2 separate regions of the Homo sapiens genome follow, and region 2 is linked to region 1. A link means that fine-mapping ties the variant in region 1 to the expression of a gene that starts in the linked region. Tissue or cell type: cerebellar hemisphere. Region 1 holds a variant in brackets; the other region holds the start of a gene. All regions are shown on one strand. Distances are from middle to middle.

The links. PIP is the estimated chance that this variant, and not a neighbour inherited with it, causes the effect.
Region 2: GABRA5 starts here. The variant in region 1 is fine-mapped to the expression of GABRA5 in cerebellar hemisphere (GTEx, PIP above 0.99).

Annotation. Positions count from the first base shown.
Region 1 is chr15:26,175,170-26,183,224 of GRCh38, forward strand. No RefSeq gene overlaps it. Among named protein-coding and RNA genes, the nearest start is that of LINC00929, 63 kb to the left of the region's middle. RefSeq lists enhancers at 1,573-2,074, 2,075-2,574. The variant C/T (reference allele first, on the strand shown) is at 3,731.
Region 2 is chr15:26,863,444-26,869,970 of GRCh38, forward strand. It overlaps GABRA5 (gamma-aminobutyric acid type A receptor subunit alpha5), which reads left to right and starts at 3,619. Exons shown (of 11, transcript NM_000810.4): 1 at 3,619-3,668; 2 at 5,286-5,350; 3 at 5,732-5,891. The coding sequence starts at 5,806.

The DNA of each region.
Region 1 (8,055 bases):
ACCGTGTTAGCCAGGATGGTCTGGATCTCCTGACCTCATCATCTGCCTGCCTCGGCCTCCCAAAGTGCTGGGATTACAGGTGTGAGCCACCTTGCCCGGCCTAGAACTTGTAATGCAATTATTGTCAACCCTGTGGGGATAGTTCCAAAAAGGGGGCTTGGATCCTGATAAAACAGCTTATGGCAGTGGAGAGAGGAGGAATTCTATTGGGCTGTAATAAATAATTGCTAGGGAGACTGACTGAATCCAGGAAAGAAGATTAACTTGTAAATAGTTCTGTCTGGTATTTAAATGACCCTTGGAGATAGTCATTATATTCCTAAAAGGGTGCGTTCAGGTGTGGTCACATCTTGGTCCTCTTTTCTGCAACAGAAAATGAGATAACAGGGAGGGGAAGGAAAGATACTTGTTCTCCTTGGTGGGTCTGGATCTTACGCAGATAAAGGAATTCAGCTTCCTTGGTGGAGACCGTTGCGGAGGGGGTTAAGGTGAGAGTCCTTGAGGCTTCCTCAGTTCAGCATATCAGCATGTATTTTGGGTTACTAGGGTTACTAGTTTCTGAGCCCCAACACCACCTGCCTCACACTTGTGAGAATAAAAGGCATCAGGAGTGAACGTGCTTTGAAAATGCATATATTTAAAGGAATGAATCTGTTTATACATGCAGATTTTGTATAAGCATTCATCCTGGCTGCTTCATTTTTTTTCAGTGATTCCAGTTTTCTCTGTTCTACTCCTTCAAAAGCCCTCCACCCATCTTAATCTAGGAAAACCCATAATGACATTTCTTTTTCTAAATTATTTTTTATTTTTAGAGACAGAGTCTTGCTATGTTGCTGAGGCTAGCCTTGAACTCCGAGCCTCAAGCAATCCTCCTACCTCAGCCTTGAGAGTAGCTGGAATTACAGGTGTGTGCCACTGCGCCCAGTTTATGATGGCATTTCTTAATGTTTCCACTATGAAATATTAATAGGTATTATGTTTAAAAAGAACCTTGCCCCATGGTCAAATATGTCTGAGAAATCTTAAGTTAAAGGACATTGGAAATGGGCTTCTCACTGAGGGCCTCTTCTGAGTCACTGGTAAGCTGCTGCATTATAAATCCCCAAAGGTGAACAGAAGATGTAGCGTGCAGCATTCTGCCAAAGGTTCCGTAACTTATTTGCACATGGAACCCTCTTACGTCCCTGAGATTATCTCCTGAGGACAGACTTCAAAAACCATTTTGGGCAGATTCTTCTGTGTTCCTGGCTTTTCTCCCATCATGCACTTACAGCAGGAGATGCATTTGTGCAGCACGCTGGGCTGGATGGACGAGGCTGCTTGTGTCTAATGGTAGAGGAGGGGGCTGAAGCAGCCGCAGACACCCCTCACCCGCATCTTCCTGAACGATGAGGGGATACATGCTTAGGGCACACTGGTGACCAATTTGCAGCACATGAGTTTATAGGGGCATAGGAGTGCTCCTCGGTAATACTCTTTCCCAGTTTCAGAGATCCTGGCTTCCTCAAAGCCAGTAACCCAAAGTGGTTGGTGTGATGATGATGCCACTTTTGCCTGCGTTCTAACCATCTTCTCCCGATTTCTGGGGCCTGATTACAGCTGCACCAAGGAAGGATATCCCATAGCCTAGCGCAACCGCAGTCAAGCCACAGCCATCTCTTCTGAACGGGTTCGATTCCCACCTCCCTCCAACCTCTTCAAAAAAGTGCCTTTTTGGAAACTCCAGTGCCACCATGATCCCGTGCTGAAGGCCCTTCAGGGGCTCTGCGTTCCACACAGATTGCCATCAAAGCCCGCAAGCAGGTCTTATGACGTGGGACCCGCCCACACTTTCCCTTACTAACCTCTGCCATGCTGGCCTGCCTGGAGTTCTAGGACAGTCCCCACCCATGTCGCCCCTGGGCTTTCCACTGTCTCTTCCCCTAGACTGGATGCTTTGGGGTTTTCCCTCGTCTCTTTGCAGGGCTAAATGCCTGCTGTCCTTCAGTGCAGCTCTCCCTGAATGTCCAGCTGTGACAGGCCCCCTGCTCTAGCAGTGTCTCTCTCAGCGTCATGGCCAGAGTGCAGCCGGCTATCTGCCCTGTGCCTCAGATCATTTGCTCCTTGACTTTGCTGCCTCTCTCCCAGGGAGCTGCCAGTCTCATCCAATGCTTGACACTTCAGTGCTTGGTGGACTGTTTTTTGCATGGATGAATGAATCAAAGAAGTGCACGAAGTTAAGTCACACCCAGGCCTTTCCCACCAGGAGCCTCCAAGCCAGCTGCGAAGCAGTTGTCTGCACCACTGACCCCCGAGAAGTCAGGCCCACTAATGGAAACCAGCACTCACTAAATGCCGTGGAATCAGCGTGGCTGTAACAGCCTGCAGAGTGCCACGGGGGAGTGGCCAACATCAGAGCTCTCAAAGAGCAGAGCCCTGCACGCTTGGAAAAGTGCTCTTAGGAGCCCAAGAAAAGTGGAAGAAATATTAAGACTTCACTTAATAAATAAAATATAAGAGGGTTAAAAAGCATGATGTTCAGATATCATCACCTCCAGACTCCCATCAGTTAAAACAGCGTTCTCAGAAAACACGTTTCCCAGTGTTGTGTATAAAACTTAAGTCCCAGTCAAGAGGATTTCATAGGCCCACCTGCCACAGAGTGAGCAACACTCTGACACTTATCTTTTCAGCCATTTTTTTCCTTTTCCTTTTCATCCTCTGGCTGTTAGTGAACCACGTCTTCAAAATATTTCCTTGACCTCTCCCATTCTCTCTATGCAGCTGGGTGTGCCACATGCACTGGCAATCCCTGAAACAAAAGCCACTGGCTGAGGGTAGAGGTGGAGCCTCCCCCGGCTCCTGAGCTCACAGCGCCAGCACCTAGCGCTGCACCTGTTTCTGAAACAGGAGGGGTTCAGTAGCTGGGTACAGCAATGAACATGATGGCTAAAGCTGTTCTCATGGCAATTTTGCTGCTATTATGTCAAAAATGAGTTTCAGGGAATCTAGGTGAAAAACAGAACACTGTGCATTTTTGTCTTCCTTTTAAAATTAATTTAATTGACAAATACTAATTGTATCTATTTTGATCTATGTATACATTTTAAAAATATTCAGTCAAACTAATTAAGATATCACCTCACCACCTTACAATGGATTACGTACAGCGTTAAAAGGGAAGGAAATTCTGTCATTCGTGGCAACAGGGATAGAACTGGAGGCATTATTTTAAGTGAAAAGAGCCAGGCAAAGAAAAACAAATACTATATAATCTCACTTAAATACGCAATCTGAAAAGACTCAACTCATGGAAGCGGAGAGTAGAAAGGTGATTACCATAGGCTGGGGGGACGGAGGGGGATGAGAAGAGATGCTGACCCGAGTGTACAAAGCTCCAGTTAGACTGGACGAGTAAGCATTAGTAATCTATTGCTTTGCATGGTGACCACAGTTAATAGTAATGTATCGTATATTTCAAAATTGCTAACAGAATAGATTTTTCCCATGGCACGCTTTTTTCTTCCTCTAGCCAACTCGGGAACACTGGCCCTCTCCTGCGGCTGCCGCCCTTTGGAAACACTCAGGGAGAGGCATAGGTCAGGCAAGGCAAACGAGGGAACGGCTGCTGGCTGCTTCTGGGGAGAGTCTTCCCCAGCCTGGCTTTCGGAGGAGCCCCCCTCCTGGATCGCTGGCTGCCTGCCCTCTCCCCTGGTGCTGACTGCTCCTGTCTGTTCTCACGTGCAAG[C/T]GGTGTGTTAGGGATACAGTCCATGAGGTCCTCCCCTGCGATGCCAGAGCTGGACTTGGAAATCTCTGCATCCCAAGCCCATGCTCGAGCACACGACTTGTCATAGTTTGTAAGGCTTGGCCATGTATTTATAGCCTTTCCTCCCCGAAAACAAACCCCAGCTGATGATCCATGCTAATCATTTCAAGCAGAGAGGGCCTACCGAGGTGGTCTCCATGGCAATGATGTGCGCTTGGGTCTCCTAGGAGACAATTACTCGTGTGACATACTTCAGATTCGCTTTACTGCCCAAAATGTGAAGCGATTTTCCTTTACACACTGAGCCATGCTCAGAATGTGTAAGTTAAAATTTAATCATTTCTAACCATAGTTTTATTCCTGTGGTTTAAAAAGGTGAGATATTCCAAAGGGGAAAAAGAGGCCTAAAAGGTAAGGAAACGGCACACAGCTTCTTGAATTGCATTATAAATTACCTGACAGGGGTAGTTATGAGGCTGACAGAACACATTGGAACTCATCTATGTTGTGTTTTAGGGAAGGTTTGGTCCAGTGGATGGGGTTCTCTGTTGACATTTGATATTTATTTCAATTTAATCTGGAATAATTTATAACACATAACTTTGGCTGGAGCTGGGTTTAAAAACACATGGAACTTCGTGCATGGCACAGGTCCACACCATGCATGGCACAGGTCCACTCCATGCATGCATTACACAGATTCACATAATGCGTTGCACGGGTTCACTCCATGCATTGCACAGATTCACATCAGCACTGCACAGTTTCACTTCATGCATCACACAGATTCATGTAGTGCATTGTGCAGGTTCACTGCATGCATGGCACAGGTTCGCATCATGCATGGGACAGGTCCATGGACTGACTCATCACCAAAGTTGCTGTTTACCCAATATCACAGCTGGGCCAGACCACATAAATATGTGCTTGTGGCCAAAACATTTTATTTGTCTTAAAGCTCAGAAACCTGCCAAGCTCACAGATACAGGCTTTGAGGGTGACATCCCATGTTCTTGTGAGGCGTCAGTGCTGAAATACCTGAAACACAAAGGTGGGACAGTCCTGGGGAAGTGGAGCAGGTCAAGGCATTGTATGATCACACCTTACCTAACTTTCACAAAAAAAGAACTGGTTAATCTCAGGCTCATCCACAAGAGGGCTGCCTGTTATTATTCCTTGCTACAAAACCACCCAGTGGTGCCTGAGAGAGACAGGGAGCAGGCGAGCTGGGGCAGACACAGGGTGCGCAGCAGCCTGGGGGCGATGTCTCTCCTCCTGTTTGAGTCAGCACAACCCAGGACATGTATTTGAGTACCCATGGAGGACCAGAGGATCTGCAAGCGCATGGAGTGGCTGGACCCTGCCTTCCCAGAGGTCGTAGTCAAATCAGAGGAACAAACATAAGCCACACCTGTCTTAAAATGGGGCGCCGCTATTCAGAGGTGCGTTCTAAGTATTTGGGGAGCTCAGGGAAGGGAATGACTGATTTTGTCTTGAGAAAAGTTGAGGGTAACATGGAGTTGATAAAGGAAGAAGGATGAGGGAAGGCCTCAAAGAAAGGGTTGTCTTTGAACTCACCAAGGAGGAACAAGTTTCAGAGTCCAGGAAGATGGTGACAAGAATTGAGTTCAGGTGTAGCAAACACCCAGCAGTGCCAAATGCCTGGCATGAGAAATTGAATACCAAGATGTCCGAAATCCAGGCTGCACTACAGATTTCATGCTGTTCTCCTTATGTGACATTGTAACTTTTATATTCTGTCTCTCAGACCAGAGCCCCAGAGAGGAGGGCTTTTGTTTCAATTGTTTCTAATTGCAACATAAAACATGTTCAAATTTGTTGATTAAAAAATGAAATATTTGTTATTGGGGGAAATGGGAAAATGTTGGTCAAGGGGCACAAATTTCAGTTAGCAAGATGAATACAACCTGGAAGCCTAATGCACAGCAAAGTGACTATGGTTAATGATACCTTACTGTATACTTCAAATTTGCTAAGAGGACAGATCTTAAGCTTCTCACCCAAAAAGAAAAAAGGTAACTATGTGAGATGATGGATATGTTAATTAACATGTTTGTGGTGATTATTTCACAATGTATCTGTACATCAAATGATCAAATTGTATACCTTAAATATATACAGTTGTCAAATATACTTCAATAAAAATAAAAGTAAATCAAAACATAATTACAATATCATTATCACACACCTAAACAAATTTCCTTGATTAGTGTTTAATATTTTTTTTCTGTTGCATCGATCAGGGAACATTCGAACACAAGACCTGGATCAAATTACTTTGTCCTTTGCCTTAAAATTTCTATTATATTTCATCACAAATTAGCATGACACAGTGTGTGCTGAAGTCTGCTCAAGTTCATGACAGATTTTCTTGTTTTATAAATACTTTCTTTCACTTATCTCCTTATATACCAGTATTTCTCTTACCGGTATGACTGATATGAACTTTTTTTTATCAAATGGCCTTCACTGATGGAACAGATATCTGGATGGGTTCTTTTTTATTACCGCATAAAGTTGGAGTATGGCATCATCCAGGTACTTAGAAATGAATACAAATACAGCATTTTGAAATTCCTAAAAAAGAAAAAGAAAATGGATATAAAGTTTCAGTCATGCAAGATGTGTAAGTCCTAGAGAACTACTGTACAGCATAGTGCAGATAGTTAACACTTGAAAATATGTTCAGAGGATAGATCTTATGCTAAGTGTTCTTACTACAAACATACACACATATATACATACGTCAACACACATACACACATATATACACACACGCACATACACATATACACACACGCTCACACATACACACATATATACATACATGCACACATGCACACACACATATACACACGAACACAAGGAAACTTTGGGAGGTGATGGATATATTTAATATCTTGATTGTGGTGATGAGATCACAGACAGCATATATCCAAACTCATCAAATTGTATACATTAGATATGTACAATTTTATATATTAGTTATACCCCCAATAAAGCTTAAAAAAAGAAATAAGTAAAGGTTAAAAACAAGGATAAAAATGAAATAATGAATATATCAATGTCCATGTAATTCATTGAAAAAGAAAAAATGTGTTGCTGGTTTAAAATTTGTTATTAATTTATTTTGGTCAGGACACAAGGTCCTGGATTTTCTTCTTATGAAGCCAGTTGCTCAGTATATATAAAAAATGGGGCCAGGTGCAGTGGCTTACATGTGTAATCCTAGCACTTTGAGAGGCTGAAGTTGGAGGATCACTTGAGCCCAGGAGTTTGACACCAGCCTGGGCAACAAAGTGAGACCCCAATCTCTGTAAAAAAAAAATTAAAAAAAAAAAAAGCCAGGTGTGGAGGTGCACACCTATAGTTCCAGCTACTCAGGAGGCTTCAGCGCAGCAGGTCGAAGCTGCAGTGACCTATGACCACACCAGCCTGGGTGACAGTGAGACCCTGTTACACACATATAAGAACGAGTCATAAACCCATTGTACCTCAGGCCTGCCTAGCCATTTTCCCAGTGTTTTCTCTGGCTTTTTATAAAAATAGAGGAAAGAATACAAGTTGATTAACCTCGTACTACTCTCATAGTTGGAATCTGATGTGACAGTTGTATGTATGTAATCTACACATATGTGCATGCACTCAGGAAGAACCCACTGAGCCAGGTGACTCAGACAGATTAGAATTTCACAACTATGTGCTGAATCAATAAAAAGAGACCAAAAGAGTATCAAGAATGCATTGCTATCTATATCACATCTTTCTTCCATTTTCTCTAGTGAATCAATTACCTGGGATGAGGTTTAGACCTTTTAATTAGCTGAATTACTCAATTTCCTGACACGTCAATCCATAAAAAATGGGAAAAATGATTTAACTGCTGGACTCAAGCAAAAATAAAATGAAAAGAAGTGTTCAACAAATATAAAACAGACCAATTTCACAGCATGCAAGTTGAATTAAAGACCGACATTATGAATATAGTGCTTAAAAATACATCAGAAAGTATTCTTATGTAATGATGCAGATGTGATGTTTCTGAGCTGTGGTTGAGTCACTTAGGACAGTTTTCTTTTTATGGGACCACCAAGAAGATGCTAGGAGCAGAAGTCAAAACACATTAACTTTAACAATCTTTAAAAATCTGTGCCAATAAAATAACCCTAGTTCAATGAACCCTAAGGTAGACTATGGACCTTTGAAAAACTCCAGAAATGAAATTTCTGACTTGAATCTAGCAGGTTGCTAGATTATGATATTTGGGGGAATATAGGAGAAATTAT
Region 2 (6,527 bases), 690 kb after region 1:
GACTTGGTCTCTACTAAAAATTCAAAAATTAGCTGGGTGTGATGGTGCATGCCCATAGTTCCAACTAGTTGAGAGGTTAAGATGGGAGGATCACTTGAGAACAGGAGTTCGAGGTTGCAGTGAGCTGAGATTTTACCACTACATTCCAATCTGGGCAAGAGAGCAAGACTCTGTCGCAAAAAAAAAAAAAAAAAAAAAGAAAAGAAAAGAGAAAAAAGATAGGTTATGATGAGTTAAAGATGCCTGCTGTAAACCCTAGAGCCATCACAAAATAAAATGAAATATGGCAAAATAGAGATATGATAAATAAAACACTAAAGAAGATAAAATAGATACAATGAAATTAGAAAAAAATTTAGTATCATTTTAAAAGCCCCATATGCCTCTATTTTCCTAGTTACATAAAGGAGGCAAAGTGTGAAAAAGAATAGACCATGTTCTTCTAAGGACCCATGTCAGGTGTCAGTAGAATGGAGGTGATGCAGGAGGGTGGGAACGGATGCCCCATGTTTTTAAAGCTGTGGGGTGTCTTCTCTTTTTATTTTTTTAAATCCAGAAATGTAGATCTGTTCATTCATCCATTCATTGATGTAAAATCTGGTTTCTGAGGTGTTCAGCTTGATGACTGATACATGTATACTTCACCACCACAATCACATGCACTCACATTTCCATCACCTCGCAGAGCTGCCCTCTTTTGTGTGTGTGATGAGAACCCATAAGATCTACCCTCTTAGCAAGTGTGAAGTATATATCGCAGTGTTGTTAGCTGTAGTCACAATGTTGTATAGTAGATCCCCAGAACTTATTCATCTTGCATAACTGAAATTTTGTACCCTTTGACCCACATCTCCCCGTCTCTCCTTCTCCCAGCCCGTGGCAACCACTATATACCCAGTAACCCCCTTTCTGGGGATATAGTCAAAGGAAATAAAATCAGTATCTGAAAGAGAGATCTGAACTGTCATGTTCATTTTGGCATTTTTTACAATAGCCAAATAATGGAACAACCTAAGCATCTGCCAATGGATAAATGAATAAAGAAACTGTGAGATACGTACACACACACACGCACACACACACACACACACACGTATATGTATAACATACATATACGACAGTATATTATTTAGCCCTAACAAAGAAGGAAATCCTGCCATTTTTGACCACATGGATGAACCTGGAGAACATGCTTGGTGAAATAAGCCAAGCACAGAAAGACAAATAGCACATGATCTCACTTATACCATGGCACTGTGTTCATGTCTCAGCCACATTTACCACACCCAACCACGCAAACACAGCCACTGTCTCAGTTCCTGCCCCTGACCGGGGTACAGGGTGGGTGCTCTGTGAACACGTGTTCTACTCATGGCCCAGCTTCCCCACCTTCAGCTATTTTAGGCTCTGACACTGGAAATGAAATTCTTATGAAGCCCGGGCCAAGGCTGAGGTTGTGTGGAACTAGGGTGCCCTCTACTGTCTTCCACAACGATCACGACATTGCTTAATTTCATTCAATGAAGAGAAAATGCTAATGAAACAAATGGGAATTCAACGGATAGCCTATTATTTCTCAGCACAAATACAGAATTCTATAGTAAAACAAAAATCATTGAAATGGTAGTAAGCACTCTTCTAGCAATGTGAGTTTCTGTAAGGTTCTGATGGGCCTTACGATTTCACTGTCCCCTCAGGGCAGTCCATCTAAAGTGAGGCTATGTTATGTTACATAAACACTAGGAGGAGAGAGAGTGGCATACCGTTTCATTACAGGGAAGAGAAAAGAATTTAAGCAACATGCTGAAATACAATGTTAAAGAATGACTCTAACTTAAAATGATTTTTATATATTCAATAATATGTGTTGTGTGGACATAAAGCTGATAGAAAGTGTACCAAAAAAAGTGGAAGTTTTAAACATAATCCATCAAAAGAACATATTTCCTTACAGCTGACATTTCTTTTATTATTAAGAATTAATGTCTATAACCCTCGCTAATACAAAAATCATCCCTTGTTTATATACATTTATTTTTGCAAACTCACACCGAATGACTTTGTGTGACAAGCTGTGAAGTTTAAAATTTACCAATTCTTCCAACTCTTTGATTTGCATTATGCTGTTTAATCCTGAGAGAAGAGCAGCTGTCGCTGGTATTAGGTGTTAGAATTCCAACACCTAATAGGTGAAAATTATATTAGGCTGATCATAAAACCATGTTGTTAACTTTTTAAAATTTAATGTCTCCCAAGGAATTTCACCCTAGTGGTACATCTTTTGGGAAATTAGAAAATGAAGAAATGCATACGTTCAGTGATCCATTTTAGAATTAGAAAATTCAAATTAGCATCTTATTTCATTCATATTTCCTGAAGAACCACTGGAAACAGTTATTTAATAGTGTGGCTAAATGTATATTCAGAGAAACACTTCCTGTATATTTGCACATTTATGTATATTTATGTCCTATTCCTGGAATAGATTTACAAGTTTTGTTTTTCAGAAAATTTCAGAATTTCTGGAATGTGCAGAAGTATTAACAGGTAACTTAGATTTGGAATACACTGTATTAGAGATAACTGGAAAAATGAGAGGCTTCCTACACTGGAAGGTCAAAGATCTTTCCTGGAGGGGAGTTAGGAATTTGCCTTTACTTACCATTATTCTGTTAAAAGAGATTATGAATAATGCAGTTTCACAAAAGGAATGGGACAATGGTGTAAGTAAACCTCCCCATCACGTTTTCAGTGGCTTTCCTTTGAGTCTTGAACGTTTTCCACTGGGTGTTATAGTCGAGAGTCCCCCACCTCCTGAGGAAGCAAGACCTGGCAAACCCAAGACGATGCGCTCTTACTTGTGTTGTTTGAAGGGGCCCTGCTGCCGCGCAGTTGTCATTAATGCCACCCTCACCTCCCAGGAACTGCACCACTAGGACGGACGACACACCGACGTAATGACCATAGTAAGACCCCATGTACGTGGCTAATGAGGCAGTGACCCGACGTGGCTCGGAAGCCCTGCTGGGGAGATCCCGCCCCGTCACCCCAGAGGCGCTCTCCGACCTGCAGCCCCCAGGGCTCCTGGCCCTTTCCCGTTTGCCACTGCGGCTTGTTGTCAAGAAATGGAACTTCAGAAAACCCCCAGATATACACTGCGTTAGGTAAGGATTTCATTCTAATCGAGTCCAATGTGACCCTGGCTTTCCCTCCCGTAGTTATGCATTCCTGTCTATGAGTGAGATGAAAAGAATGTCCACAGGCCAGCTTCTTTCAGAAGCGCCTAAGAGATGCGCATGTAAGGGGTGCCATGGAGCACCCGGGAAGGACCCAGGCCTGGGCAGGGAGGCGTTGGGGCCGGCTCTAGGGAGCAAAGCTGTCGGAGTCCAGGCCTCTATCACCCGACTGCTGACACTGCCCTCCCATCCCTGCTCTACAAGCGGGCGGTGGTGACTACACGAGGCGCCGAAGATGCTGTTGAGGGCCCTGGAGAAACTTCAGCAGAACAGGGCCTCTCCCCTTGCAGGCCGAGCCGGGGGCCCTGCGCCCTCCCCCTCCGCCCAGCTCGGCCAAGGGCGCATTTGCTGAGCGTCTGGCGGCCTCTACCGGAGCACCTCTGCAGAGGGCCGATCCTCCAGCCCAGAGACGACATGTGGCGCTCGGGCGAGGTGAGAGCGGGCGCGAGTGCGCCGGGGGCGCTGGGGGGCTCTGCGGCGGGCGGCGCGCGGCCCGGGGCGCGGCGCGGAGCGGAGCTGCAGGGCGGCGGCGGGAGCGCGGGGCGCAAGAGCCGCTCCGCCGGGAGTGCCGGGGAAGTTCGCGCTGGCAGCATGGGGCGGTGACGCCGCACCGGCCTTCCGCGCCTGCCAGCCGGGCGAGAGCAGGCGGAGGAGAAGGAGGATGCATCCTCACCGACGGCTCGCCTCCCGGGGCCGGCGCGCAGGGTGAGCCCTGGGCGCGCTGGGCCGGGGCAGTGGGGTAAGAGGACGCGAGCGGGGAAGAGGACCGGCCGCCCCGGCTCGGTCCGCACCCTTCTCCTCGGGGCGCCTGAGCGGCAGGCTGCGTGGCCGGGGAGGAGAGGTGCAGAGCAGGCGGGGCGCGCAGCCAGGCCAGAGCGCAAACTTTACCCTGGCGACTGCGGGGCTGAAGCCGGGCGCGGGAGAGAGCGGGGTCCGGGCGGCTCATCCCTGCCGGACGGGGCACCAGGGCGCGGTGACCGGTTGGGGGTGGGGGACACCCGTTGCCACCATCACGGGAGCCGGAGGGGTGAGATCGCCCACCTGGAAAGCCAGCGTCAGCCCCGGGGCTCTGAGGCGCGCGGCGTCCCGGCGCTGCTCGCGGGGTGGACTCGGACCCCGCGGGGGTGTCGCGCGCGTGTCGCGCGGGCTGCTCGAGGCCAGGGGACTTGGAGTCGCTGCTGCACCGCGCGCTCCCAGCCCAGGAGGAAGGCGCTGCCTGGCGGAGCGCTTGGCTCGTACCCGGGGCAGGAGCAGGGGAAGTCTGCGAAAGCCGGGAGCGAGCCGGGGAGGGCCGGGGAGCTGGAGACCCTCGGCGTGCCGCTGCGGACCGCGCGGGTGGCGACCGCGGGTGCCAGGGCGACCCAGGCTGCGGCTCCGCAGTGCAGCCCCCGCGCCCACCTGCCCTGGCGCGCCGGCCCTGGTGAGCCTCTGTGGGGGTCCGGAGGGTCGTGGGAGCGCAGCCTCTCCTGGGGGTCCCTGGCTCGGGGCTGAGGGGCGGCGGGAGGCGCCGCCCGGGTTTCCCGCATGCAGCGCCGCGTGCTCGCCGCCTGGCTCTGGCCCGGGCCCCGCGACGAGCCCCCCGGACGCGCCCAGGCGACCACCGCATGGCACCCTGCCCTTCTTGGCAGGAGTCGCAGAAGGCCTTCGCTTCCGAGGTGGAAGTACCTGTTGTGTCTCCCAATTCCGGAGTTTGCGGGGGATGGGGGTTGGGGGGGCTTCTTGGGAAAATGCTTCTTTTCGAAGCATACTGTTCGGATGCCTGTGAGCACCTATTTGCGTTATGCGCATACTGAGAAATGCGTGTTTTCAGGAAGGTTAGTCGTTGAGCCCAGGGACAATGTCTGCCTGGATCTCAAATACATTAATTAGGGTCCAGCATTGAGTGGAGAGACTTCCACAGATGCAGTGCTTAAGTTATGTAGTCACGGGGACCGAATGCCGGGAAAGTAGCCACACTCTTTTATAGGCAGTTGTCACAGTATTGTGATCCTGCAGAAAACCTGTTTCTTAAATGTGCTTTTCCCCACTTCTTTCCACGTACTTTCTCAGTGCCTTGCAGAGAGAGGAGTAGCTTGCTGGCTTTGAACGCGTGGCGTGGCAGATATTTCAGAAAGGTAAAATTACTACACTTGTGGATTTGACGGATACAAAATACAGTCGCTCAGATAACTACAGCGTTTATTTTAATAATTGGACTAATGGTTTATTTGATAACATGCTAAAAAACAAAACAGAGTATTTGAGTGGAAAACAACGAATTAGGGTGATTCTGCACCCTGAGTAGAAGTAAAAATAAGCCTCTTGTTACTTATTTTTATGCTCCAACTTACTGCCCAGTGAGGGTGATGGAAAATACCTGGTGTGCAGCTGTCCTGGGGAAGGACAGCGGGCTCCTTTCTTTGCAAATTGTTGTGATAGCAGTGTGATTTGATTCCAGGAACTGTGACACAACAGCATTGATGTTCACGTGCTTCCCCGCTTTGTGTGCTTTTCAGCTTCAAGAACAAGCTGGAGAAGGGAAGAGTTATTCCTCCATATTCACCTGCTTCAACTACTATTCTTATTGGGAATGGACAATGGAATGTTCTCTGGTTTTATCATGATCAAAAACCTCCTTCTCTTTTGTATTTCCATGAACTTATCCAGTCACTTTGGGTAAGTTACCATCTGTGCTTTTATTTTATGATGTTAGGGACACTGGTGCCTTTCAGACATGTTACGGGAGCAGCACATCCATTGAGCAAGTCCTCGCCTGCCACCATTGCAGTCCCAAGCCCTTCACTTGTTGTAAATAAATGAAGTCATTGCCCTGACCCACGCTTTCTTCCTGAGCAAGGCTGCTCCTCACGTGGGGTCTCTGAAGTGAGTCAGAGAAAAAAAGGCAGATTATGTTTTCAGAAATGGAAGCTGAAGATGATATCCGAGTCAGCTGTGATTCTTCCTACTCAGGTTAAAACAAGATTCAGGAGTTCACATGCATGAAGGACAGTCACTGCTTGTTAGACAAGGCAGTGCCAACATTTCAGTTGCCCTCCACGGTTCCATTATGCAATCAAAGTTGCCTTGAAAGCCAGGCCTATGCTACTTGGCATTGAAAAGGACTCACAATGGTCCTGGCCTGAGCCAAGGCCCTAGAACTGTGACCATCTGAATGCAGGTGCAGACACCATAAACCACAGGTGCCTGAAGATCTGAAAGACACCCCTGAGGTTCTGGCACTATCATTTCCAGTAACCCCTCTTTCATTTTAGCCTTTAGTATCCGCATACCAACTCTAACCTTTTTTTTCAT